Linked DNA regions of Homo sapiens. The protein of the gene in region 4 purifies or fractionates together with the protein of the main gene of each other region. This does not show direct contact. Each region holds a gene or a part of one and is shown on either strand. Other genes may lie near its edges. The genes, in order: CLGN, ATP2C1, EIF2AK3 and OGFOD3.

Region 1 (7,850 bases), on a different chromosome or scaffold from region 4:
CAGCAAACTTCCACCTGGGCATCCAGGCGTTTCCATACATCCTATGAAATCTAGGTAGAGGTTCCTAAACCTTAATTCTCAACTTCTGGGTACCCACAGGCTCACCACCTGGAAGCTGCCAAGGCTTGGGGCTTCCACCCTCTGAAGCAGCAGCCTGAGCTGTACGTTGACCCCTTTTAGCCATGGCTGGAGCAGCTGGAACACAGAGTACCAAGTCCCTAGGCTGCACAGAGCAGAGGAGCCCTGGGCCCAGCCCACAAAACTGTCTTTTCCTCCTAGGTCTCTGGACCTGTGATGAGAGTGGCTGACATGAAGACCTCTGACATGCCGTGGAGACATTTTCCCATTGTCGTGTGGATTAACATTTGGCTTCTTGTTACTTATGAAAATTTCTGCAGTGGAGATTTTCATTTCTATCACATTGTCAGGCTGCAAATTTTCAAACCTTTTATTTTCTGTTTCCCTTTTAAAACGGAGTGCCTCTAATAGCACCCAAGTCACCTCTTGAGTGCTTTGCTGCTTAGAAATTTTTTACACCATATATCCTAAATCATCTCCCTCAAGTTCAAAGTTCCACAAATATCTAAGACGGGGCAAAATGCAGCCAGTCTCTTTTTTTATATATGCTGTGTGGTATGGATTGAAAAATGTACTTATTACATGTGAATATTCAATTGTACCACCACAATTTGTTGAAAAGACTAGGCTTTCTCTACCAACTGCATGTGTACCTATGTTGAAAACCAGTTCCCCACACTGTCTTATTCTGTTTTGTGTTGCTATAACAGAACACCTGGGAATGGGTAATTTATAAAGAAAAGAGATTTATTTAACTCACAGTCTGGCTAGCTGGGAAGTTCAAGGACATGGCTCTGGCTTGTGGTGAGGCTTTTGTGCTAGGCCAAAAGATGGCAGAGAAGGTCAAAGGGGAAGCAGACGCATGCAAAGAGGGAAAACCTGAGGGGCACCCAGCTTTATAACAACCCATTCTCATGGGAATGAATCCAGTCTCGTCAGAGCAAGAACTCACTCACTACTGCAATGGCATCAAGCCACCTACGAGGACAGGACCTTCATGACCCAAATACCTCCCATTAGGCCCCACTTTCCAGCACTGCCACACTGGGGACCAAATTTCAACATGAGTTTTGGTTGGGACAAACCAACCATATCCAGGCCATAATACATACACATGTAAGTCTATATAGAATCTATTCTGTTCCATTGATTTGTTTGCCTTGATACTAATACTCTTTGATAACTCTTTGATAACTATAGCTGTATATCATTCTATAAATCCTAAAGTCGGGTAGTGTTTCTGAGGGGGGTTATCTTGAGACACAAGAAAAAAACTCAGCATGGGCTCATTCTGCCAACTATATAGTTTAACCAGACGAATTCTGGGAAAAACAATGATGACTATTGTCATTACTATTATTTACTATTGTTTGATATTTTTGTTAAAGTAATAAGGAAAAAAACCTCAGAAAATAAGTATAAATATAAGAAAGAAAAGATCATTTTCTGCCATAGACATAATTATACATCTTGAAAATAAAAGTCAACCCACTGGAAATACTTGTGGAATACTTTGTTTCCTTTTCTCTATTTTCTGCACCATTAAAAAGCACATTCCTAAACATATGAAAATATACAAACATTTTTAAAGTATTATTTGAATTATCTAGGTTCTGAGTCCACTCATTGTATTTGAGTTAAAACTTCATTCTGCATAGCTCTTTAATCCTGATAATCGAGGCATTTCCTATATTCTGCATTTTTCAAGTGGCAAGGTGTTGTGGAAAGGGCACAGGCTTTGAATCCTCACTCTGCATCTTAAGATCTGTGTGAATAAGTTATGTAACTGATCTGGGTCTATTTCCTCATAAGTAAAATAAGGATGATACCTGTGGGTCAATTGCATATAGCAACTTGCACATAGTAGAACATTAATAAAACACAGCTCTGATTTTGATTACAAAACAGGCTTCCAACAGGACATCACTCTGTTCCATCAAGGAGCATGAACCTTTCTGCTTTTTTTTTTTTTTTTTTTTTTTTTTTTTTTTGACACAATGTCTCACTCTGCCATCCAAGCTGGAGTGCAGTGGCACTATCTGGGCTCACTGCAACCTCTGCCTCCTGGGCTCATCCCACCTCAGCTTCCTCCCACCTCAGCTTCCCAGGTAGCTAGGACTACAGGCATGCACCACCATGCCCAGTTAAATTTTTTGTATTTTTTTGTAGAGATGGGGTTTCATCATGTTTCCCAGGCTGGTCTCAGGCAGCTCGGCTCAAGTGATCTACCTGCCTCAGCCTCTCAAAGAGCTGGGATTACATGCATGAGCCACCATGCCAGGTCACCTTTCCTGCTTTTTATGTTTTTCTAGATTTCTGATTACTCTAGTCCCTCCAATCTTGATTACATTGCCTTGGTCTCTTCCCAAATCTCTCTTCAACTTTGATGTGTCAGAACACTTCACGACTCTACCATTCAGCATTACATTCTGGGACTCCTCCGCTTGTATTATTAAACACTACATCACTCTCAAAAGCCATACCCCTTGTCTTATTTGCAGATTATTCTTTCTCCTCTGACATTATCACATTGTATTATTCTGATGAAAAGTTGCCTATTAAACAAATTATAAATATTATATTCAATCATCCTTTCAATAAGTGGCAAATAATTTTGGAGATATGTTAAGGCCTTAAATTTCAAGGTTAGAGATTAGATTTCATGCTGTGGGTAATGAAGGGTCATTGGAAACTATTGAATGAGCTGAGGATTAAACTACGAAGTGTAGGTGGGAGGCTCTGAAGGGGGGCAACTAGTTAGGTAACTCTGAACAACAGTTTCTAAAGTAGTGAGAATCTAAACTAGAGAAATGGCACAGGGACTGGAGGGGGTGAGGACCTCTTTTAGATGATTTTATGGAGTTAGAGTTTAATTTATGGAGGCAGTGAATGTAGCAGCCAAAGAGTAAAAAAATGTTCTCAAGGTTTTGAGTACTATGTGACCAAGAAGATACTACTAAATCTTGCAAAAATTCACTATTCTTACATTTTTAGTTTTCAGCTTCCTCACTGCAAACTTTGAATGGATCCTTTAAAAAATCCCTCTCTAGCAGTTCAAGTGTATTTGTTATGGGCCACAGAAGTATGTTGAATAATAGAAGTCAGAAGGACGGAAGAAAGAAATAAAGGGTATAATATTGTTACAAAGTATCTCAAACAAAATGTCTTTTTAACCAGTAAATTTTAACACTATCCAAACACTCTCCCAGAGATGACAAAGTCAAAAGTTTAGAAATGCTGGTCTTAATTAGTGAAGCAATGTGAAAAAACTCAGTGATCTTGACCCCTAGCCAATAATGATACGTTGTGCACGGAATGCCACCAAACCCTTAAGATTGAAACTCTTCAACAAGGGTCTTAGACTCACAAGTCAATTAAATGTTGTTAATTAATCTTCCAATAAAATTAAATTGTTATACCAAATTCAAAGTCAAGATTTACTATAAAATATTAAGTAGTAAAATTAATATTGATCCAATATATAAAAGGCAAAGCAGCTTGTGATTGCATAATCATAGCATAAACTACGTTTATGCTAAGATTTATTTCAATGTGTTTGAAACTACAGGCTCTGAGAGAGACAGGCCTGATTTACATCCCGTTTCCACTGTTTACATGTTGTGTAACTTCGAGCAAGTTGCCATCAGTTTCATCACCTGGGTTGCCACGAAGGTTAAACAATGAATGTAAGCCCCTTAGAGCACAATGAACACAATAAATGTTAGCAGCTCTTATTAATAGTGTTGTTCGAGAGAAAAAGAACATATTGTTTTATATACAATGTATTTATTAACACTTAACGCATCTGTATTTGTCATATACACACACCAGACAGGAAAGCTCCTTATTAATCACCATGACTGCAGATCTGTTAACATCTAGAACTCTGGAGAAAACCTAGAGCCCTAATCTTGCTGCACTTATTACTGGACGTTGTTCATAAATATGATTTACATAAAATTCAGGACCCAATCATTGCGCAACAGGAGGTAGCACGGTCTGCAGAGAGGGCGGGAGCTCAGAGGAGGAAAAGTCTTCGGACTTGCAGGGGGAATTCCTCCTGGGCTAACCCGGGAGCGGGGTCCAGGCCACAACCGGCCGGCGGCGGCACAGGCTCCATGTGCGGCTCCCCCTGGAGGCGGTTGAGCCCCTCGGAGCAGGAGCGCGTAGCACACACCTCGGGCCGCCACCGCCTCCCGCCCGCCACCGCACGCGCACGCGCGGTTAGTAGTCGCTGCTGCGCGGCCGCCGGCGGGACTGGTCTGAAGAGACGCGGGGACCAAGTGGCAACGACTTGGACATCTGAGCTGTCACTGCCGAAAACAGGCCGCAAGAGAGGTGCGTGAGCAGCAGGCCGCGTTCCCGCTGTCCCGCTGCCCTTTGCGCGCAGATTGGGGTGAGGAAGCGGAGTCGTTGCTGCTTCCCCCAGGCACCCCGTTACTTTGCCGCCAGAGGGCTGAACCGGTCGGGGCCAAGTGAGGGTGGATGTTGAGTCTGGCGATGGGGCTGCAGCGAGCTAGGGTCTTGACTGGGCTCTGGCGGCCCCGTGGGTGGACGCAGGAGGTGGTGCCACCTGGGACCCTTTGTGTCTTCAGCACCGCCGCATCCACCTGCTGCGCCCGGGCTGGGGCGGACGAGCACGGGGACAGCTAGGTGCCTAGCCCGGCCGGCCTCCCCTGCGGGCTTGAGGAGCCACCGGGAGCCGAGGCCGTTATTCCAGCGGTTGCCATTGCAGCCCCGTTCCACGCTTGAGCCCGGGGCGCTCTCCCAATGGTTGTAGAGGGGGCCCGGGGCGCGTCTGGGCGCTGCTCACTCTGCTGACTGCTCCTTACAGAAACCCAAACGAGATCAAAATAGGCTCGGCTGTCTCAGTCTCCACCTATGTGGAAGCGAAGGGACCCCACTTCACGGCGGTGGGGCCAGGGACTGTTGGCCGCTCCCTCGATACCCGCGCAGAGCCCATTGTGCGCCGCCGGGGGGCGGGCGAAAGGGCTGGGTTGAATCCAGAGAGGCCCTAATTACTAGACTCATTATCGCCCCAGGCCTGTTTACCATCAATCAGACACTTTCGCTGATTTTATTTATAGCATCTGCCCAAGCAACAAAGAGGAGGTGTTTGCTTGGGAGTTAAAAGCAAATGGCAACCAAAGCTCAGGACTGGGAGAGAAAAGGTAAATAACGTGGCCACAGGAAGAAGTCTCAAATTAGAAAAGAGTTCATTAACGTATAAACTTTTTGTTGCTTAAAAGCAGGCAAAATCCCGATCTCATCTGATGATTTTGCTTGTTTTACAAATGTCGACATCACTCGAGGTAGCCCTCCTTTGGGTCATTGTAAGTTTGACCTGTTTTCAGTTTGGAGTTTTGCCTTCACGTCTTATTGGTTTGATCTTCCAGTAACATTTAGATCTCATCTCCAAATCCTCAGAACAAGATATTCTGTACTCTCTGTCTTAGCTAGTTGATAAGGTTAATTATTGTGTGTAAATGATGTAAGTATGTTGATGCATTTGTCTAGAAATTGAAGTGTTGTAAGTTAGCTGTAGTACTTTTTAAGTACCTAATAAATACTGGTGTTTTTAAATAGAAAACTAGAATTATGAACTTTAAAGAATCTTTGGATTGTCTAGTTCACGTCACAAATGAGAAAACAGGCCCACAGCAGTTTTTATCACTTGTCTTTTTAATAATAAAACTAGAAACTTGGTGCGATTGTGCCATGTTGGGTGTACTTTTTATTATATCATTCTACATTGCATTCCTGAAGCCACATGACAACTAAAACTTTAAGTAATAGGTGATTGTCAAACACCACTTCTGGAATATACCAGTGTTGGTCGGATCCTCAGTCAGCCATTAAAACTGAATAACAGCAGAAAGGCATCGCAGTTATAAGAAATAGCATGTACAAAAAGTGTGTTAAATAGGTGTGTTGAGAGTGAAAGAAGGCCCGGCGCGGTGGCTCACGCTTGTAATCCCAGCACTTTGGGAGGCCGAGGCGGGCGGATCACCTGAGGTTAGGAGTTGGAGACCAGCCTGACCAATATGGTGAAACCCCGTCTCTACTAAAAATACAAAAATTAGCCGGGCATAGTGGCGCGCGCCTATAATCCCAGCTACTCGGGAGGCTGAGACAGGAGAATCGCTTGAACCAAGGAGGCAGAGGTTGCAGTGAGCCGAGATTGTGCCACTGCACTCCAGCCTGGGTGACAGAGCAAGACTCCATCTCAAAAAAAAAAAAAAAAAAAAAAAAGGAATTACAAAAATGTGTCACAGAAACATAAAGTGACTATAGTGTTGGAAAAATGGCAGCTGTAGACTTGTTCAATGCAGTGTTGCCAGAAACCTTCAATTTGTGAAAAATGCAATAAATCAACGTGCAGTAAAATGAGGTATGCCTGTATGTACACACACACACACACACACACACACACACACACACACACCCTATTGATTCTGCTTCTCTGATGAACTCTGACTAATAAAATGACTCTCCTCCAAGTAATGATTCAGGGATTCTGCAACTTCCTACCTTGGAATTTTGCCGTTTTCAACCATGACCTTCAAAATTGCTTGCATCAAACCAGAAGGGGAAAGATCATAAAGAATTATAATTCATAATTATAGGAAGTTTTTATGGGCAAGGGCTGACAATGGCATACAGGTCTTCTATTTACATTCTGTTGGCTGGAACCAGGTAATGGTCACATCTAGTGCCAAGGAAATTACCCTTGTGATCAGCCAGCAACTTCTCCCACACTATACAACACATATTGCATATCCTGTGATTGTCTTTTCTTTGTGTGCCTTACTTACCTTTGATGTGACAGTGAGCATTACTTCAATACCAGTACATGAGCTGCACTTTATAATTTGTAATTTGGGGGTGGTAGTGGAGATCCAGTAGGGTTTTTAGGAGATATTGGTGTAATTATTTAAAGTAGACCAGACTACTTGATCTAGATTTCAAAGATTGGGAAGAATGGTATCTCATTCATGGATAAAGTTACTTGTGCTTCAATTTGTTATTGAACTACCACAGAAGCAGTGCAGAGAACATACATGAGATCAAAGATACGTGTTGGTGCAGAAGGATGTAGTTCTTCAGTGCCTCCCTTCTTATGAAGGCACAACTGATATTTAGTGATCTCAGCAAGCCTCATGGAGTGAGGAATACATAAGAAGCTTGGAACCCTGGGCATGCTACCTTTTAATTTATAAGGAGGGAAGAGGGTGACATTAGCACTAAATGTTCTACCCTATACCATATAAACAAATTCTTGCTGTACTAAAATTATATAACTTAAACAACCATACAGATCAATAAAGAAATAGATAACACCACAAGCCAACTAAACATAATAAACATATGGACAACACTGTACCCAACAATAGCAGAACACACATTTTTCTTAACTGCACATAGAACATTCTCCAGGATAGACCATATTAGACCACAAAACAAGTCTTAATGAATTTTAAAAGATTGAAATCATACAAAGTAAGTTTTCTGAACACAAAGGAAAGGAACTAGAAATCAATAGTAGAAGGAAAACAAGAAAAATTCACAAATATGTGGAAATTAAACAGCACACTCTTGAACAATGAGCCAAATAAGTCTCAAGAAAAGTTAGAAAAACATCTTGAGACAAATGAAAAGGAGAACAAAAGATACCAAAACTTATGGGATACAGTGAAAGCAGTGTTAAAAGGGAAATTTATAGCTTTAAGCACTTACATGAAAAACAAAAGATCTCAAGTTAACAACCTAAC
Region 2 (7,815 bases), on a different chromosome or scaffold from region 4:
GCATTACACACAAAATCCACCTATTTCCCTAGCATGCCCAATGAAACAAAAAGAAGGTACAGAACACATGATGAAAGTAGAAGAGATATACTCAGGTTTGTGCTAAAATCTAGGCCAAAGAAGCTTCAGATGCACACAGAGCAAGACCAGCAAAGAATCTTCCACATATACTCTGGTTCATAAACCATTTGTTTGGGTTTGGGGACTTTTTATTCTAAGTCCAGTAGCCTATACTTCCTAAGAAATATGATTAAAAACATACATAACAGTAAAAATAATAAAATAGAATTACTTAGCTGAGGTATTTGGATTTATATTTAGAGGATGACAAAATGATATTTGACAAAGTATATATCTTTACCTCAAAAAGGAAGACATGTTAATATAATTTATTATAAACTTCAACCCAATCAGTCTTAAATGTTTTTGACTCTATGACTAAGCGTTAATTATGGACACTGTTACCCTAGAACACCACTTGATAGCCCTGCATGAATTCTGCCAAACCAAAGACATACCTTTTTAAAATAAAAATAAAGCAACCATTTACACTTACTAAGAAAAACAAAAATTTACTTCAAATTGTAGTATAGGCTTTTCAATCACAAAAAGAAAGAAAAGAACAGTGATCTGACAGTGGTCACATCCTGTGCAAAAAACTTGATACAAAAATGATAGCACATGGTATCTGAGCTGCTTACATTACAAGAAAAAGGAAATACAGTAGCTGAAATATGGCACTCCTGGGAATCAACTTCTAAACCAAATAGAATGCCTTTGAAATGATTAAATTTATTTGTGTATTAGTAAGAAAGCCCCACCACCATAAATAGTACAATATTTAAAAATAAAAAAAAATATATCTATCTAAGATAGATAGTGTATTTGTACTGTTAGACTTCTTTAAGTGCAGAAGGTGGTTCAGGTTTTGCCTTTTTAATTAAATAACTGACCATATGCTTTATAAAGTTTCACTCAATCACAAAAGCCAATTTAAATCAAGGAATATGATATCAAAGTTGCATAATTTCATTTGGGACTGCCAGCAGGTTAAAGTCTTAAGTCTTTAACATTAATGTTCATTTTTAGTCAATGAATAGTTAAAAAGTTCTCAAATCTTCATATCCTCTTGAACTTGCCCTTCTAAATGATCCTCAGACTGCAATTCCTAGTTTGCAAATAAAATAATGCAATATGCATCATACTTCAAGAAAAGATGATGATGTCGAACTAACATGCTTCTGGATCTTTTCCCTGCTCCTTTCAACCTTCTTTATAATTTCTGCCACTATGCACACTGATGAGGTGAGACCCAAAAGAAACAACAGATCTGCAAGAGAAAATAAGTTGGGTTTTACATTTCTTTGAAACTTACAGTTGCAAAGCTTAATAGCTTACATTTTTCTAGCATTTTAACACAACTTTTTTTTTTTTTTTTTTTTTTTCTGAGATGAAGTCTTGCTCTGTCACCCAGGCTGGAATGCAGTGGCATGATCTCAGCTCACTGCAACCTCCGCCTCCTGGGTTCAAGCCATTTGCCTGCCTCAGCCTCCCAAGTGGCTGGGATTACAGGCATGTGCCATCATACCTGGCTAATGTTCGTATTTTTAGTAGAGAGGGGGTTTCACCATTTTGGACAGGCTGGTCTTGAACTCCTGACCTCAAGTGATCTGCCTGCCTCAGCCTCCCGAAGTATTGGGATTACTGGCGTGAGGCATGGCGCCTGGCCACCACAGCTTTCAAACACATTGTTTCACAACTATTCCATAAGGCAGGCACAATCACCCTCAGTTAAAAATAAGAAAAGAAAAAAAGATATTAAGTGACTTATCCAAAGTCACATAACTAGGAAAGGCAGCAGCCAGAATTAGAACCCAAGTCCTCTGACCACTTTCCCTGAAACCTTATGTGGCTAGCCTTTAACAGTATCACCAACAAAAGGAGTTTATTTCATAGATCACACAGCCCTTTAAAAAAGTACTGTATCAACAGTAGTAGACAATTTGAATGACAATGCCTATCTGAAGATTAAAAATTTGACATTAATATGTTCTATTTCAAAGCATAGAAGACTTGTCTTTACAATACTATCCACACTATCTCAATTCTTATTTACTGCTTGGAAAATTGCAGATGTTTCCTTAAAATGCCATTTTTTTAAAAAGAGGAAGAAATGTGAATATGGAATTAAAATACTGAAATTCAACTAGTTCAATTTTAAGGTAAATTTTAACTTACAAGAAAAAATACAGTGAAACTGTATAACTCCTTTTCATAAATACCCAAATTGAGAACTCAATAAAGGATAGCATTACTGTCAAATATATCATTCCTCACACCTACACAGGAAAACTAATTTTTAAATGCACTGTATTATACATTTAATAAATGGTAATGTAAGAAAAATGTGTAATTTCCAAATAGTCTTTATAAAACATTCTGCTATTTGGTCAGACTGACATTTTGTGAAATTAGAATGTACAAACAAGAAAGAATAATGAAATTATTAGTTTACTGAAAATTCTAACTTTAAAGAAGAGAGCAACTTGGTTTTCAGGGAGATTAAGTCTAGTTTTCTCTTCATACAAGATGGCATAGTACATAAAAAGTTATAAACTATACTCTAGAGCAGGTTTTGATTTGCTATATTTGAGAATCACGTATTATGATTTTTATAACAATTGATAACCTATAAAAGAGCAAAAACCAAAACCCTGGAGTTAGGAGAGTAATTCCCCTGAGCTTCCCCAAGTGAAAAAATAGACTCCTTTTTCAAATCAAGTGAGTTACTTATTTTGCTATTTTAAAAGAATTTTAAAATTAAAACAAACACATTAGAAAATATGATTTATCTAAAATACATAAATGATAAAGATAACGTTTTCTTTACCCAGTATGCTTAGGCTCTCAGTCTGAAAAACCTTCTGAAGCGGAGGAAAGTAAATAACTAGTAATTGTCCCATGATGGATCCAAGAACTGCATAGCAAAACATTCTATTACTGCAGAGTCCAATCTCAAACACAGACTTGGTCTGTTGGCAGAGCAGAGAGTTCATTTATTACTCCTTGGTCACAGAAATAACTTCTTTATTATATTCACTTCTAATTTTTAACAAGCAGTGTCACTTTATCACTGAATTGTGCAATGTCAATTCTATGAAATATCTTAAATTTTACTACTGTTTTGGAATAATTCAGATGGAATAAAAGTAAATATTAAAGTAGCTTTTATTTTATTTATCAAGAAAAGGCTTGCTTAAAAAGTGACACTATATAATTTAGACCATAGAAAGAAAAGAAACCTTTTAACATCCCAAACATCAAGAAACTTTATTTGTATTTTGCTAAATCATTTCTATACATTCACTAAGGTAGATAATCTAAAATCCTTTCTTGGAGAATGGACCTAATTGTGTGTGTACTGAAAAAGTAAAACCACTTTTCATAAAAAAATAAATATTACAGCTTCTTCAAAAATTGGTCAATTAGTGAGAATTCGCTGTACTCAGAAGTTCCAGCATGGCAAATGGTAATATAGTTAAGGATTCATAAAGTGCTTTAAAGCTGAAATGAATAGTCATGCCTCAAATGAAACTAGTTTTTAAGGACAATATGCTCTAAAAAAGTACCATAAAGCTCTAGCCCATTATTTTCTATCAAAACACTTAGACCAAGAAGCAGCAGTCACACCTTAAGATACAACAAGGGAAGAAAAGCAAAATTAGAATGTCCTAAGCTTTGACACAGTGACAGGAGTGATGGGAAAAAAAATAGGCACATAACTGCTCTTATACTCCTAGCAATACTGTCTTTTAAAATGAGACTAATAAAATCTCAACAGAAACTATGAGGTTTGTTCTATGCTCAAATAATGTTAACCACGATCTATCTTATAGCTATAGCCAGCTAAACGCAGATGACAACACCTGTGAATTATTAATACTTTTATGTTCTAGTCAGACATAAAGCTTACCTCCCACAAATGCCCCATCCTCATTGTGACCAATGGCACATGTTTATAAGAAGGCTGTGTCTGGGGCTGCAATCTGTGGCTACAAAATTAAGCAAAGCTAAAAACCCATAATCTTTGCCTACTTATTAGAAAGCACTCTACTCAAGTGAGTCAATCAAGTCAATCAACTAAGTTCACCTAAACATACCTGGGATCTGGAACTTAGTGCATTGAACATGTCAAAAAACACAAAGCATGTGAAGGTCATTGTTGTGTCTCGAGGTGTAATCACATTGTCTCGTAGCTGTCAAGAGGCAATAACAAAATTACTTTTCAGTGGCTGAATTTAATGGATAAATCGCTGCTTTTTAAAAAATATAAACATTTTCTTTCCATTAGGAAGAAATAACTTTAGCCTAACACATGAAACATAAAAGCTACCTAAATTTCCTATAAATCACCTAGTGAATAGCTGTAATCTACATAATAAAAAGTAAAAAAAAAACTTCTCATGAACTATGTATTAGATATTAAAATACTGTTATTATTTAAAAATAATAAAGTGGCTCTATGATTTTAAGACTCAGATTTTCCAACTTCTCTCTAAATTTTCATGTATTTTTATTGTAACTGATACTTCTCTGCAGATTTATTCTAATACATGAATCAATAATTTTATTTATCCATAAAGATGGAAATCAAACTCTTTTAAAATGTTCTTATATTTTTCACTAAAAGAGCTCCCTTAACTTCCCAGCCTTCTGGGTAACCCATCAAAATAACTAAGAATCCTATCAGATATACAGAATTCATGTTAATATAGCAGCTTGGCCAGTGAATATACCTCACGCCAGAAGACAAACAAAGTCCCACAAACAATGATTATTGATGAAACAAGTATTTTAAGTATCAAGTTTTTAGTCAAAATGCTGTCTTTCCAGTTGCGAGGAGGTTTACGAATGACATCTTTATCCACTGGTTCTACTCCAAGGCTTAAAAACAAACAGAAAAATAAATTACTTTCAAGTTTTAAGGTCTGGATTTGTTACTTTCACAACCTCACTAACCTCAATTATTCGGCAAACTAAATGCTTTCTTATAGAAACAAAATGTTGCATCATAAAACGCTGGCTGATTACGCAAAAATAACCACTGATTTTGTCACTTTTTCTCTCCTCTTTATTTGTTTGGCACAATTTGATAGGGGATAGATAATCAACTTTCAAAAAACCATCCAATTCATTTACATGTAAGTTTACCTATTTCAAATACGGTGTGAAATACATGACCTACCGACTGAATTTTGAAATATCTTTCATATAAAGAGGTTTTAACTGGGATGATTTGCTGGAGTGGCCAAATGACATCTATCACTCAACTACCCCATTATTATTAAATTTTTTAAAAAAGTTATGACACTCAGGTCCTCTAATACTTTCCCAAAGTCTCTAAAACTGACAGTAGAACCTAGATAATAAAACTGAACCCAGAAATTTCTCCATTATACCCATTTCTTAGAAATAAAAGGCTTACTTACTTCCTGAGGACAGGGATAGCACCTATTCCTGATCTATTCTCAACCTTAGGCTAGGCATCTAACAGTGGAAAGGCTCAGATCTACACTGCATGCACACTCAAAAAGAATTAATAAAATACACACATCACACAATTTATAACATAAATGTTAAAACATTTGCTGCAAAGTTTTCCAACACTGTCCATAAATCAAGTTTTAAAACTTAATTATCAGGGTAGTACACATTCCTTGTCTTTCCAGCTCATGCAATTAAAAAACTCGTACCTCTGAGCTGGGGGTCCATCCATAATAATATTGATCCACAAAATCTGCATGGCATTGAGAGGATTAGGAAAGTTCATTAATGTAGCCAATGAGATTAAAGTTAATGCTGCTATACTCCTGTTGAAAAAGAGAGTCATTTAAAAATATCAGTAGAGTAAATCTGTTGATTCTATGATACCACTTTTTTAGCATTTAAAAATCTCTTACTACTATGCTTTTAAAGGAAGACTGTTTCAAGTAAACTATTCTTCAGTCACGTGGACATTTTAAAGCTAAGAGTATTTTAACAAAGGATTTTCAAGATGTTTAGACAACAGGAACAAATAAAGAATTTTTACATCTGCATGATAGTTTCAACAATATTTTGGTAACTGTTCTTTGACTACACAATACCCCTTCTACTTTTGGAAAAAGATACCAAGAGGAAACAATGAGATGTGAGCTATTAAATAAATCACAAAGATTTATACATTTTGATGATACAGACATCTAACTGTTACATTTACAACCTATTTATCATGCCATTTAAAATTTCAGAATACAATAAATTTTCTTTTTGGAAAACTGACATATGAACAATGCTCACAAATATAAGGCAGAGAAGTTTCTAGGCATTCTGCTTAAGTTCTACTTTTCATATAATTTATCCAGAAGACCCATGGTGACAAATTTCTTGCAAACTTACGTGCTCAGCTGGAATCTAACGAAATTTTTAATGTTATTATAAATCCCTTTACCCTCTTCGATTGCAGACCTGAAATTTAAAAAATAAAGATGAAGTGAGAAAATATTATCATACAAAAATGTATCTATACTAAAACACTGTAGAGCTAATTTTGAAAATAAATTTCCAACCGGGCACTGTGGCTCATGCCTGTAATCCCAGCACACTGGGAGGCCGAAACTGGCAGATCACCTGGGGTCACGAGTTCGGACCAGCCTGGCCACCATGGTGCAGCGAAACTCCGTCTCTACTAAAAATACAAAAATTAGCCGGGTGTGGTGGCGCATGCCTGTAATCCCAGCTACTCGGGAGGCTGAGGCAGGAGAATCGCTTAAACCCGGGAGGCGGAGGTTGCAGTGAGCCAAGATCACACCACTGCACTCCAGCCTTGGCAACAAAGTGAGACTGACTCAAACAAACAAACAAATAAATAAAATAAAATTCCAACTAATACAACACATGTATCAATATGGAAACATTTATTTTAGCAAAGAATTAAAGTCAAGCCTAAGCTCTACCTGAACTAATTTGTCACAATATTAAAATTCTTATTCTGAAGAAGATACTTCAACATTAAAATCATGCATTGTCTCTTCACACAAGAGAAAATACTTCACATTCATAATACATAAAATGATTATCTTTTTTTTTTTTTTTTGAGACAGGGTCTTGCCCTGCTTCCCAGGCTGGAGCGCAGTGGCACAACCTTGACTTACCTGCAGCCTCGACCTTCTTGGCTCAAGCAATCCTCCAGCTCAGCCTCTAGAGTAGCTGAGACCACAGGCTCACATCACCACTCCCAGCTATTTTTTTTGTATTGTTTGGAGAGATGGGTTTTGACATGTTGCCTAGGCTGGTTTCGAACTCCTGGGCTCAAGTGATCCATCCACCTCAGCCTCCCAAAGTGCTGGCATTACAGGCATGAGGTACCCTGCCCAGCCATGATTATCTTCTTCACCTTCCTCTAAGCTCATTTTTCTTAGTGGTACAAAATGCAGAGTAAAGGTTTAAACTAATGCATGTCAGGAATCAAATGGCAATGAGATATATAGGAATTATAGAATTTAAGCTACGTGTTGCTCCTGCACATCAAGTAGATCACATGTTGCAGAGGAATTAAATGAAGAACATGGTTTACAAGGATTCATATAAATTATCTCATTCATTTAGCTGAATCCAGGAAAATCTATGCTTTTTAATCAACTCCCCATTTCTTCTAAGATTTCTATATAATTATAATAATGGAAAGAAAAAACTCATATCCTTGCAAAAGCTTGGCAAATACTGTGAGTCCTAAGCTCCCAAATGTTTCCCTGTAGGCCAAAACAGAGTAATAAA
Region 3 (7,000 bases), on a different chromosome or scaffold from region 4:
TATTTCTCCCACTTTTAGCACAGACTGGCCACTCAGCTCTCCTAGCCCAATGGATGCACCATCAGTTAAAATACGCAGAATGGATCCTTTCGCTACAAAAGAACATATTGAAATCATAGCTCCTTCACCACAAAGAAGCAGGTCTTTTTCAGTAGGGATTTCCTGTGACCAGACAAGTTCATCTGAGAGCCAGTTCTCACCACTGGAATTCTCAGGAATGGACCATGAGGACATCAGTGAGTCAGTGGATGCAGCATACAACCTCCAGGACAGTTGCCTTACAGACTGTGATGTGGAAGATGGGACTATGGATGGCAATGATGAGGGGCACTCCTTTGAACTTTGTCCTTCTGAAGCTTCTCCTTATGTAAGGTCAAGGGAGAGAACCTCCTCTTCAATAGTATTTGAAGATTCTGGCTGTGATAATGCTTCCAGTAAAGAAGAGCCGAAAACTAATCGATTGCATATTGGCAACCATTGTGCTAATAAACTAACTGCTTTCAAGCCCACCAGTAGCAAATCTTCTTCTGAAGCTACATTGTCTATTTCTCCTCCAAGACCAACCACTTTAAGTTTAGATCTCACTAAAAACACCACAGAAAAACTCCAGCCCAGTTCACCAAAGGTGTATCTTTACATTCAAATGCAGCTGTGCAGAAAAGAAAACCTCAAAGACTGGATGAATGGACGATGTACCATAGAGGAGAGAGAGAGGAGCGTGTGTCTGCACATCTTCCTGCAGATCGCAGAGGCAGTGGAGTTTCTTCACAGTAAAGGACTGATGCACAGGGACCTCAAGGTCTGTATTTGTGGAGCATCACCCTTGGGGTTTCAATCTGACGTTTTGTGATTCAGAGCAGTACTTGCAGTACTCTGAAGGATCCTTAAGAGTTGGGGAGAGTAAAAGCATCTGAGAGCAGAGGTCTGAGAAAGTAGCCTCGAAGGGGCCTGCTGCAAGAATAAGAAGTCTTATGTCTGAAAACTTTAGGCAAACCATGCATTCATTGTCTTCAGTAATGTGTTTGTGTTCATTTTACTGTAAAAGGTATTCTCAGTAGTCCAGGTGAGGGAAAAAAAAGAAAAAAGAATCTTTAGGTAAAATCCACCATGAGCAGATATAGCCTGTTTTTTTGTTTGTTTGTTTGTTTTTGTTTTTCTATGGTTTTGAGTAACCCTGACACCAATACCTCCAGGGCTCTGAAGCAGCATGGTGAAAGGGATCCGAATGGAAGGAGAGACATGGGTTCCTTCATTAGCCAGCTTGAATTGGGGCAAATCTCCACACTTTTGCTTCTTTTTCTGAACTGTTTAGACTTTGGGGGAAGGGGTAAGAAGCCGAATGGGGAAAGGTAGCAAATAGTTAACAGATGACTGTTTACAGCTCTAAAACCTTGGATTCTATTTTCAATATATTCAGTAGTGAATTTTGCAGTAATATAATATGCAAAATTATTAAAGAGTCTTACTAAAACATGACATTTCCGTAGTAGTGTTTCTAAAAATAAGTACATGGAACTTTTATTTAACTAATTTCCCACATTCCATATACTCTTAGCCATCACCAGTAGATGTGGAGTGAATGTATAAATACTTTTCTGATGAAAGTAGCTTAAAGTCTTGATAGATGTGGATCCATTTTAAGTCTTTTCAGACTTAAAACAGACTTGTTTCAGGCACAAAAGTAGCTATTTGGACACAAGTTATTTTCTTCTAAAATCAGCAGTAGGTTTTCAAATTCTTGGGTATATTTTAAGAGTTTTAGGGTAACAAGAATAGGAATTAGAAATAATTCTTATTTTTTAATATAATTGTTATTTAGTCATATAAATCATTATGCTTCAGTGATTTTGACGTGGGCCCAAACTGATTGCCAAGAATTGTTCTGCACTGAATGAAAAGTTCAGAGATGAATTATTTGGTTGGATTGGAGAAGACAGTTTACAGGAGACCACACACCCCTAATTTGAGAGAATACTAGCAGTTAGGTTTGAATATAGTAAACGCTTATCACTAGGTGGGAAACAGCTAGCTGAAATACACATTCTTCTTGTACTTAACACTTGCTGTACACACAAATGCCAACTTGAAAGACAATGAATCATGTTTTCACTAATAATGAATATTCTTCTGCTAATTTTATAATGTAAATGAGATATTGGTAAATATCCATTTAATGCTACAATGTTGTCTAAAGATTTTTCTGTAATTGTCTATGCACCAGAAAAATTGCAAGAAGAAAGTTAATATTCCTGTTAGTTTTTCTAGAAATCAGAAAGTTTTATTCCTTTCTAAATAGAAGACAATTCCTTTTAAAGATTTCTAGTGCGCCACCCCCAACCAAAAAAAAAAAAAAAGCCAAGATTTTTGTTCCTGGGTGAAAAAGCTGTACATTTTGCTACGTTCTGACCTAAATCTTTGAGCTCAATGTTAAACCTTCTAGGCCCTCTCCCCCTGTTATATTTTGGTCACATTTTTGTCTTCAGGACTTTGGCTCCTGCCTCTTCAGACTAACTTCTAGTCTTCTATTTTCTCCACTCTGAACTTTTCTCAGTTCCTCTTGATATACACTGTTCTGACAGAAACCTGGTCCTTCTTCATTATTCTCATCACACCTGGATTATTTATTCTGTGGTTTCTATGGGGTATGAACCATATCTGTTTCTTTTACCTGTTATAGTCTCAGTACAATGCCTGAATGTTCTAGATGGTCATACCATTTATTTTGAATTTTATTTTCTTTGCACTCAAAAGTGTTTATACTGACTTAACCAGAAAAGGAAATCTGTTGGCCCACATGGCTAAACTGTTGAGAATTCAGGTAAAGCTTTAGCTGAGATCAAGTGATTTAGCCAGAACCTGGTTTCTGTCCTCCCCATTTCTTGTTTCTATTTAAGTCTTTTGGAGTTGGTGGGGTAGAGGGTGGAGAGAAAAGTATTGCTTTTTCCCACTATCAGAAATTTTATTCTACTTAAACCAAGGACACCTACCCATCCCTCAACAATCCCTAGCCAGGCAATGGGATTCCATGGATTGGCGTAAGCAACTTTTAGAGCATGGATGCCTTCCACACTAACCGTGGGGTTTTGCTGCACAGTCAGCAAGAAGGAAGTTCCCAAAGTAAAGTCAAGATACTTCTGCTGGAAGCACAGGGAGATAGATACTGGAGAGCCAAAAAGCTTGTCTATTATAGGGTTCAGTAAATAACAACTGCCATCAGATGTTGGGAGTTGGGAAGAAAGATGACATTTAATGCAGGATAGTCTATTATTGCCTCTGGTACAAAGTTATTTATTGGAGAGCTGCAGATTATTACCATAGATCTTATACACAATAACTTCATGCTTCCAAGTCAAAATCGTTTAATGGTATTTTAGAGTTTGGGAATGCAATGTTATTTTCTGGCAGTATTTGAAACATGATGAAATTCAATTTCATGAGCTAAATGGCTTCCTTTTTCCTCATTTCAAGGGCTATGAATGGTGGTCATATTACCCGCAGAGTAGAGTAGACTCTGAGGGAGAGGTGATGTATTTCATGTAGGGCACCTTGGGTTTGAGAAGCCCATGAGACCTCTGGTTAGATGTATTCAATAAACAGTGTAATATGAGTTTAGAACTCAGGGCAGAGATCTGGGAGTAGATATAGTCTTGAGAACATAGAGGTTTTACGAGAGGCAGCATAGAGTAGTAGTGAAGAGCTCTTATCCCTTCTGATAATCTATATCCCCCTCAGACGCAAACCAAAAGATCAGTCTGTTTCATTCATTCACCAAATAGTAATTAGCTACCATAGAGCAAGAACTGGACTGAAATCTGGGCACGTGGCAGTGGATCACAAGGTCCTTTCCTCATAGAGCCAGACTGCTCAGGTCTGAATCCCTGCTTCACCACTTGCTAGTTGGGTAACCTTGGGCAATTTGTTTAACTTCTGGGCCTCACTTTCTATGTCTGTAAAATGGGGTTAGTACTCATCTAATGGGGTTGTAGTACATGAGTTAGTAGTAGTAAACTGCTTTGAACAGTGCCTAGCACATTGCAAGTTCTATTTATGAACTAGTTATTATTAGTTATAATTATTAAGGCTTTAAGTCATAAGTGTAGAGATGCTTGCCTGGGAAGAATATATAGAATAATAAGATTGAGGATTAAGTACCATGATCCCTAGGGAATGTGCACCTCAAAGGGTTTAAGTAGATGTTCAATAAATACTAGCACTCTTTGCTACCCTTCCCTTTTCTTTACTAGCAGTACTTGTCTGGCACAGAAAAATTGTCACTATTTTCCTGTTAGCCCATTTTAAAAAGAAATATGCTTGAAAATATCTAGTTTGTTGTATTTTTTCTTTGTAGTCTTTTAAATAATTCTCTTTACTTTTTCGCCTCCATGCACACCCACTGTACTTTTGTCTGTTGTATTCTTTCCAGCCATCCAACATATTCTTTACAATGGATGATGTGGTCAAGGTTGGAGACTTTGGGTTAGTGACTGCAATGGACCAGGATGAGGAAGAGCAGACGGTTCTGACCCCAATGCCAGCTTATGCCAGACACACAGGACAAGTAGGGACCAAACTGTATATGAGCCCAGAGCAGGTGAGTTTTTCAGACCTTTACTTACTAGCACAGCAGCAGATGTACCTGATGAATCTCTTCTCATGTTTTCATTAAAATACCCAGTAATCTAAAACCCAGTAAGTCTGAAAATTATGAAAACTGGCAGTAGTGTTCCAGTAGTGGAATAGTGACACAGCTAAGATGTAGTTTCTACAACCTGAATTGGGGCTGGATTAAGAAAAATACAACACATAAAATGCACTCACCCCCTGAACAAGCACCTGACAGCAACCAGGAATTTGGAAAGAGACTTTGAATGCCACCCTCCCAAACTTAACTCGTTTGCCTTGTGTAGACTGTGTTGGAACTGTTTTCAGAGCCAGCTAGACCCAGAGGTACTATACTGAGCTGCCCTTTGTGGTCACTCATAGGCAACTTCCAGCATGTACCACAGTAGGAAATAGAGGCACACAGGCCGGCAGGTGTTGCCTTGTGGGCTGCTTGGCCTTCACAGGAAAAGCACTGTAATCAGGGCAGGGACTGGAAGAGCTGGGGGAGCAGGGCATCCTGGAAGCATCAGGCGAGCATGCTCAGCCACCACCAGGCAAATGATCTTCACAAGCTTCTCTATGCTTAGAGCAGCGGGTCTCGGACGTTTTGGGCTCAGTACATACTTACACTTGTAGAAATAACTGAGAACCCAAAAGGTTTTCTTAACAAAATTTTATCTATCGATATTTGTTATATTAGAAGTTAAAAGAGAAATTTATAAAACTTTATTAAATCAACTAAATAACAATGAAACCTATCACATCTTAAGATATTTTTATGAAAAATAAGTATTTTCTAAAACAAAAAAAAATTACAGGCACCAATTCCCCTGCAAAAAAAAAAAATTAGAGTGACATTTGTTTACATTTTTGCCAGTCTCTTTAAAGCTAACTTATAAAAGTGCTACATTCTTCTATCTGCTTTTGTGTTCAATCTGTTGCAGTATGTTATTTTGGCTGAAGTACATGAGGAAATCTGGCCTCGCACAGATATGTAGTTGGAAAAAAGAGCAATATTTCATTTCAAGTAATTGTAGATATTTTGTCTTTGATAGTATATCAAAACTTAGTAAATGATAGTTTCTTAGAAGTCATTTACACTGTGGAATCTAAAACCATTCATGAATATTTTGTACTCTGGTACTTTTAACATCCCTTGGTCCATTTTGTACTTTGAATGGATCTTTTTACCCATGCTTGACTTTACATTGTGCATTAGTCATTTGGAAACTATTGGTTCCCTAAGTTTGGCAACTATTCCAAAAGTCATCACAGTTCATTATGTAATATAAAAAGTCACTTTGGTTAATACAACCACCAATCTCACCAGAAAAGGCTTTATGTACATATTAGGAGGCTATCAAATTCCCACTGGTAGACTGAAATCTTCCAAAATTTTAATTTTCACTTAAAAGCTCAACTTTTAACATTGGCAACAAATACTGTTAGTTTTCCTTGAAATGCCATTCTCACATTGTTCATCTTTTTTTCTCTTTAAAAAAAAAATGTTGTTTGTTTTTTTTTTTGAGATGGGGTCTTGCTGTGTTACCCAGACTAGTTTTGAACTTCTGGCCGCAAGCCATCCTTGAACCTCAGCCTCCCAAAGTGCTGGGATCACAGGCGTGAGCTACCATGCCCGGTCTCATTGTTCATCTTTAAGAAAGTGTCCCTCGGCCAGTCGCAGTGGCTCACACCTATAATCCCAGCACTTTGGGAGGCCGAGGCAGGCAGATTACCTGAGGCCAGGAGTTCGAGACCAGCATGGCCAACATGGTGAAACCCCGTCTCTTGTAAAAACACAAAAATTAGCTGGGCATAGTAACGCATGCCTGTAGTCCCAGCTACCCAGGAGGCTGAGGCACAAGAATTGCTTGAACTTAGGAGGCAGAGGTTGCAGTGAGCCGAGATTGCACCACTGCACTTCAGCCTGGGTGACAGAGCAAGACTCCATCTCGAAAAAAAAACTCTCTGTCAAGTATCCAAGTCTCAATAACTGTAGTTTGTCTACCAATTATTCTTTCAAGTCAAAATGGTGTTCTATGAAAAGAGCAGCTAGAGCATATTGTAACTCAAATAATTGCACAAATGCTAATGATACTCACAAGCTAATCTATGCTTACATCAGCAGGTCTCAACTTCTTAAAATTAGTTTGTTTTTTAAATTGACTCATAATTGTACATATTTATGGGGTACATACTGTCGTTTTAATACATACACTATTTAGTGATTGGATCAGGGTTATTAGCATATCCAAGGTATCAAACTTGGAGACAACTATTGTACTTTGGTATGGAGCATAAATGTTTTTCTGAATATTTTCCATTTTGTCAGATTATTAAAAAGGTGTATATTTAAAGGTTGAGATTTAATAAATTAATAATTTCTACTGCTAAGGAC
Region 4 (6,692 bases):
GACCGGTACTGGGCAGTGCCACGGTGTGACAGAGTGACGTGCAGTCAGGGACAGCGTCCAGTGTGGACGGAGCCTTCCTGATGCCTGAGCCACCCCTGAGCTCACGGGGCCACCCTCTGGCCGCGGGTCCTCCAGCTCCCCAGCCCAGAGCTGTCCAGCAGCAAGCGCTGACCTGGGAGACGTGCCAGGTGGCGAGTGGGCGTGGCACACACCGCTGGTGTCTCAGGCCCTTGGCTCCCATCTCGGTGATAAGCACAGCAGGGCTGGGCAGAGCCGGGCCAGGGTCCCCATCAAGAGAGAAGGTGGAGGGAGCAGAGGCCACCACGCTGCACACCAGGGCTGTGACCATGGTGGGGTGAGAGGTGGCTGCCACGTGGGTTCCTGGCAGTGACCCACACACCACACAGAGTCAGCTCCAGGCTGGCCATGGTGACGAGTCTTCCGGGATGGGACCAATGATGGGAGGGTCACGCCCGTTTCCCTTCCTTTGAAAACGAGTCTCCCATACATAAAAATGGACGGCTTTCCTTGCTCACCCTGTGGCCTCACAGGCCCCGACCACACACCCACACGGCACTAAGGCCCTCCCGGCCTCGGCCCTGCAGAAAGCCGGAGACCTCCGGGAACCCTCCCCGGAACCCCTCCCCGGAACCCTCCCCGGAACCCCTCCCCGGAGCCCCTCCCCGGAGCCCTCCCCGGAACCCTCCCCAGAACCCCTCCCCGGAACCCCCCCACCCACTTCACCGTCGTGGCCTCTGCTTTCGTGGCTTCCTCCCCTTCGTTCGTGAGAACTCGGGACATGTACACGGAGCTTTCCACACAACTCAAGAAACCCAGCCTTGGGGCTCTGTACTCCCCAGGCTGACATACGGCGACCTCGTGTTTCGGCTTTGCTTTCGCAATGCACGGCTGTGCGCTCGGGCCTGGCTCTGGTGGCTGCCGCGTGTTGGAGACTCTGTCCACGCAGGTAGCAGGGACAGGGCCACCGCCAGGTCAGGAGCACGGACGGAAGCAGGAAACATCTCCCTTCCCGACAGCAGGACTCGCCCTCCTAGATTCTTTATTTTGAAAGGAATAATCATCTTTGACTTTAATGAAACACTTTTACTTAAAAATAGATCACTCATCAGAGGACACACCTGAGACTCCAGTTCCTCCCTGGAACCTTCTAGCGGAACCAATCACCCCTCGTGGCTCCTGGAACAGCCTCACGTCGGCCACACCCGACACTTTCATCAGGTTCACGAGCACTTCTTGGGCAAAGCCCAGGGTGTGAGGATTCACTGCTGTGCCCACGTATTTTCCCACCTTTTTATTTTTTTAAAATGCCCAGGCTTCAATGATAAATTTTTTTTTGAGACAGTATCTTGCTGTCTCCCAGGCTGGAATGCAGTGGAGCCGTCACAGCTCACTGTAGCCTCGACCTCCTGGGCTCAAGCAGTCGTCCTGCCTCAGCTCCGAGTAGCTGGGACCACAGGAGCACACTGCCACGCCCAGCTACATTTTTTAAAAGTTTCTTGTACAGACAGCGTCTCACTATGTTGCACAGATGGGTCTCCAACTCCTGGGCTCAAGTGATCTTCCTACCTTGGCCTCCCAAAGTGCTGGGATTACCAGCATGAGCCATATGTTCCCACTTCAGAAGGAAATTCTTCATTCTGGCTAACACGGTGAAATCCCATCTCTACTAAAAATACAAAAAAAATTAGCCGGGCATGGTGGCGGGCGCCTGTAGTCCCAGCTACTCGGGAGGTTGAGGCAGGAGAATGGTGGGAACCCAGGAGGTGGACCTTGCAGTGAGCCGAGATTGCGCCACTGCACTCCAGCCTGGGCGACAGAGTTAGACTCCGTCTCAAAAAAAAAAAGAAGGAAATTCTTGCTTTTGCCCAAATATATTTCTTTGTCCAAGTATCTCTGTGATTATCATGAATAGTGTAAGTAGCCAAGAATGAAAATCAAACTAATAATTTACTTATTTCAAAAGCACTTTAACCCATAACAAACCCAACACCCACTTTCTTCAAATGCATTTATCCTTTAGACGTGGCGAGAAGCCGGCGACATCATCATTTACTCCAAGGTGACAGGATCAGGTTTCCATGCAGCATTTTCCACCTGCCCCGACCATGACCACAGCCACGGACCCTCTGGAAAGTCAAGACTGGGAGAAGCTCAAGGGCGGCCCAGGCTCAGGCGACTTCCCACCCACGATGGGGCCCACCAGCCCGACCCGGAGAGTGTCCGTGAAGCAGCCGGCCCCGCAAGGACGGCTTTGGCCACCAACCGGAGGTGGGCCTCATCCTCCCAGATCCATGGAGTCCTTCAGAATCGTGCCTCGCTCCAGTGTCCCACATCAGAGGCCATGGGAGGGCGCGGGAGCCTCAGGGTTCCTGCCCCATCTGCCCAGAGCCTGCAGCCCTGACCAAGGAGGGTTCCCCATACACGGGCAGAAGCTGTGGACCCAGGGAGCCTATCCCACGCCGTCCTCCGCATGTGGCCCGTGGTGCAGGAGGGGCCCTGGGCAAACCAAGGTGCGGCCCCCAAGTCCCCCGTACCCAGGGGTCACCATGCCTCAGCTGGCCTCACGCCCGCTCCTTCCCAGGGGTCACCATGCCTCAGCTGGCCTCACGCCCGCTCCTTCCCAGGGGTCACCATGCCTCAGCTGGCCTCACGCCCGCTCCTTCCCAGGGGTCACCATGCCTCAGCTGGCCTCACGCCCGCTCCTTCCCAGGGGTCACCATGCCTCAGCTGGCCTCACGCCCGCTCCTTCCCAGGACCCAATAATGCTGCCCTTTATCAACCCCCAGAGCAGCTCCCGGGCCACAGGTGGGGCCTCCTCCAGTCAGAGGCACCTGTGCCAGGGGCTAGGGAACATGGATCTATGCCAGACAGGCTAAGGGAGGAGGGACCGAGGCAGGAGGGGCTGAGGGAGGAGGTGCTGAGGGAGGAGGGGCCCAGGGCTCTCCCCAGGCAGCTGGGTCAGGGCATCCAGGAGAGCCCAGCTTCCAACACCACTCAGGGTGGGCGGCCGTCCCCCTCCCGGGAAGGTGCCCAAAGCCCTGGACAGTCACCTCGAGGTGACTGTGGGCAGAAACTGGGCTTGGCCTGCCCTCCCTGCCAGCCACCCCACCCAGGCCTCTCCACAACTGGTCTATTCGGGGCTCCTCTGACCACCACTTTATTTTTATATTTTTAAGATGGAGTCTCACTCTGTCACCCAGGCTGGAGTGTAGTGGCACGATCTCGGCTCACTGCAACTTCTGCCCCCTGGGTTCAAGCGATTCTCCTGCCTCAGCCTCCCCAGTAGCTGGGATTAATTTGTTTTTGTGTTTTTAGTAGAGACAGGGTTTCGCCATGTTGGCCAGGCTGGTCTTGAACTCCTGACCTCAAGTGATCCTCCTGCCTCGGCCTCCCGCAGTGCTGAGATTACAGGTGTGAGCCACCGCGCCCAGCCTGACCATCAGTTTAATGCCAGGGCAAAGGGGGAGGAGGAGACCTACCCTCGACCCAGCAGAAGGCCCATGGGAGCCGGCACAGCGACGCCAAGAGCCTCCTTGGTGAGGACACTCGGACCCTGGCCCTTGGGATGCTGGCCGCTGACAGGGCCAAGCCTGGTGTGGTGGGGCCGTGGCCCACGGTGATTTGTGGGCCAGCAGCATTGGGGGTGCACGCAGGGCTGTGGGAACGGCAGATGTTCACCTCCACCTGAATCCAGCAGAACTCCCACCCACCCCAAAGGACCCCGTTGCTGCCTCCAGAGCCGCCACTCACGGACCCTTCTCCAAAGCTGCTGCGGTTTGCTGATGCCGAGACCCCGAACAGAAGCTGCTGGCCCCACGTTTGTCCCCATTTATGGCTGATGCTTTAGCCAGTCTTTGATGGGCCGGGGGGTTGCTGAACCTGGACGAGTCCCGGGGGGTTGCTGAACCTGGGTGGATGAGTCCCGTCCATTCACAGATGGGGACTTGTGCCCCGTCCTGCTGGGTCCCTTTCCTGGCCTCCACCTCAGGCTCCCAGGCCTACAGCCCAAGCACACATGATGCTGGAGAAGTGAAAAGCTGGTTCCCTTCATTTACTCACAGATGAAAAGATTAACACGTCAGCAAATCAAAATCAGAGAATTCCTAAGGCACTCTGTGCAACAGGAGCGGGTGGACGTGGGGGTGGGTGCACGACTGGCGCGGCTGCCTCCACACGGGCCCTCCTGAAGTTACCTTGGCCCGGCTGCTGGCTACGGGAACGCTGGGTCCTCGATGCCATGGTCGGGGTTGCAGCTGAAGGCGATGGTGATGGCGTAACGGGTGCCCCAGTGGACCTTCTCCACGCGGTGTAGGTTCTCGGACCCCGAGGTGAAGAAGGAGACGCGACCTGGGAGAGGAGAAGAGAGAGAGGTGGCCATAGAGCCACACCCACGGCCACAGCCTTCAGAGGGTCTGCGGTCACCTGAAAGAGCAACTATAACCAATCAACACAACCAACCAGGCAGGCTGGAGAAATTGCCCCTCTGGGAACTGCTTCTGCAGGAAGGAGGAGCTGGAGAAACAAACGCAGCAATGCTCAGGGGCCCTGTGGCGGAGGAGGGGCCCCCCGGGGCCAGCAGGGACTCTGTGGTGGGCAGGACAGAGGAAGATGCTGCAGATGAGGCCACCACTGGCTCCAGACACCCCAGGTCATCTGATCTCCCGAGCTCCGGGCATTTGATCTCCTCAGCTCTCATGGGCCTTCCAGATCTGACACTTTAGGATCTTATTTCTAATCACAGGTTGAGAACAAAAACCAAGCCCTGGGGGTGTTCTAACAAAGAATCAGGAAAGACAAGATAAAACATCCAACTCGCAAACACCTCTCTGTCTCCCTTCAAGGGGTGATAGAGATGACGTCTGAACAGGCAGCTTCCACGGCAGTAACCAGGGCCCGGGGCCTGAGAGGTCCTGGAGGCAGGGGCCTATCTCAAGAGACGCCAGTTCATTTGTCTTCACATTGAAGTGGCGCTGCCTACCCCACCGTAGAGTCCTGTGGTAAAGCGTTCACCGCTGGACACAGCCATCGACCGTCACCAAGTGGGAAGCAAGGGGCGTTGAGACTCAGAGGACACCGGGCTCCCCCACGTGGCTCCTGACGTCCTGTGACAATTTCATTCCCCTTCAAAGGTTACCACTGGAAATGCAATTCCTTCCTTTCACATTTGCAAACTTCACTCGATCTTTGAAAGGGGAGAGAAGTCCATCCCGGGTGTGCAGGGCATTCTAGCTTCAAGAGGGAGTCAGTTGCACTGTGCCTGGAAATAGTGGAGCAAAAGAAATCACGTGGATGCAATGGTCACCTCTTAATGGAGGCCGGGAAGCGCCCTGGGATGCAGGCAAGGCAGCCGATCTTTCCCGGACCGTGTGGGCCACCTCCAGATATGCAGGACACGTCCTTTTCCAGGTCGGCTGGAGTCAGGGCACCTTCTAACCTTACACTTTTAAAGGACACATTGTCCTTGGTTTCTTCCAGCTTCAATCGAGGCTGAGACATCGGCACAAGCAGGAGGGCCCAGCGGCTCGCGCCATTTGGGACCTCAGTCGCCCATGCTCGTCCACACTCTCTGCTCTCTACTGCTGGCAGACGTGGTTCTCAGGAGGCTGCCAGCATTCAGTAAAAGGAGGGTCTCCTCTGGCCCTCTGGTGTTTCTGCACATCTTGCAAACAGAGGCACCAAAGGACAGGGGGAAGGATGGAGGACAGCTGAGCCTCGTGAGCTGTGGGAGGCAGGAAACCACCCACCATCCACACTACTGAAGGCTCAGACGGAGATGAGATCAATACGGGGCCAGAAAAGGACTTTTTTTTTTTTTTTTTTTTTAGACAGTCTCGCTCTGTTGCCCAGGCTGGACTGCAGCGGCATGATCTTGGCTCACTGCAAGCTCTGCCTCCTGGGTTCACGCCGTTCTCCTGCCTCAGCCTCCCTAGTAGCTGGGACTACAGGCGCCCGCCACCACGCCCAGCTAATTTTTTTGTACTTTTAGTAGAGATGTAGTTTCACCGTGTTAGCCAGGATGGTCTCGATCTCCTGACCTCATGACCCGCCCGTCTTGGCCTCCCAAAGTGCTGGGATTACAGGCGTGAGCCACCACGCCCGGCCTAAGATGCACTTTCTTTAGTAAATGACTATTAGATTATCACCTGCTTCCTTAAAGCAGGACTCAGCACGGCAACCAAGGAATCAACAATAAGCAATGCTCTCAGCTTCCAGAATCGCATGTGTCTCTCCCCTCTCGGGCGGGTGGTGAGTCCCCGGAGGACACCTGACTCCAGCCTTCGCACCAGCAGCTTCACTGGCTCTCGGTCCATTAACTTCTTGGAACCCACAAGACATCATCCGGAAACAAAAACATCCTGGGGACACAGGACAGGGATTGTGTGGTAAAGGGTTGACTCCAGGGGCCTGGGCGGTGCACACCCTACACCCTCCAGAGAGAGGCCTGGCCTTTGCCCCGGCTCCCAGGGGGGACCTCTGAGCCCTCAGAACATCCTGCCTGATAGGAGAACCTCTGTTTACCAGGGACCTAGGGCCACACCAGATGGTCCACACTGACAGTGTCACTTATGGTGGGACGTGGGCCACAGAGCAGCAGCTCAGCATCCAGAGGGGCTGGGGACAGAGGCCAGCCGTGCCTGCACCACCAGCCCCCCAGTAAAAACCCTGGACAC

What was found.
Region 1: the proteins of OGFOD3 (region 4) and CLGN purify together in Homo sapiens (affinity purification with mass spectrometry; 3 studies listed by BioGRID and IntAct, with this or other methods). This does not show direct contact.
Region 2: the proteins of OGFOD3 (region 4) and ATP2C1 purify together in Homo sapiens (affinity purification with mass spectrometry; 3 studies listed by BioGRID and IntAct, with this or other methods). This does not show direct contact.
Region 3: the proteins of OGFOD3 (region 4) and EIF2AK3 purify together in Homo sapiens (affinity purification with mass spectrometry; 3 studies listed by BioGRID and IntAct, with this or other methods). This does not show direct contact.

The regions. Positions count from the first base shown.
Region 1 is NC_000004.12:140,424,103-140,431,952, reverse strand, and holds the start of CLGN (calmegin precursor), read left to right. Parts: upstream 1-4,304; 5' UTR 4,305-4,416; intron 4,417-5,165; exon of another isoform or gene 5,166-5,249; intron 5,250-7,850. UniProt on the Homo sapiens protein: Functions during spermatogenesis as a chaperone for a range of client proteins that are important for sperm adhesion onto the egg zona pellucida and for subsequent penetration of the zona pellucida.
Region 2 is NC_000003.12:130,994,735-131,002,549, reverse strand, and holds part of ATP2C1 (calcium-transporting ATPase type 2C member 1), read right to left. Parts: intron 6,508-7,815; coding exon 6,439-6,507; intron 5,871-6,438; coding exon 5,754-5,870; intron 4,945-5,753; coding exon 4,797-4,944; intron 4,257-4,796; coding exon 4,161-4,256; intron 3,033-4,160; coding exon 2,891-3,032; intron 1,331-2,890; coding exon 1,200-1,330; 3' UTR 1-1,199. UniProt on the Homo sapiens protein: ATP-driven pump that supplies the Golgi apparatus with Ca(2+) and Mn(2+) ions, both essential cofactors for processing and trafficking of newly synthesized proteins in the secretory pathway.
Region 3 is NC_000002.12:88,568,465-88,575,464, reverse strand, and holds part of EIF2AK3 (eukaryotic translation initiation factor 2-alpha kinase 3 isoform 1 precursor), read left to right. Parts: exon of another isoform or gene 1-18; coding exon 19-799; exon of another isoform or gene 800-951; intron 952-4,423; coding exon 4,424-4,591; intron 4,592-7,000. UniProt on the Homo sapiens protein: Metabolic-stress sensing protein kinase that phosphorylates the alpha subunit of eukaryotic translation initiation factor 2 (EIF2S1/eIF-2-alpha) in response to various stress, such as unfolded protein response (UPR).
Region 4 is NC_000017.11:82,388,167-82,394,858, forward strand, and holds the end of OGFOD3 (2-oxoglutarate and iron-dependent oxygenase domain-containing protein 3), read right to left. Parts: intron 6,378-6,692; coding exon of another isoform or gene 6,205-6,377; exon of another isoform or gene 6,165-6,204; intron 4,369-6,164; coding exon 4,232-4,368; 3' UTR 1,044-4,231; downstream 1-1,043.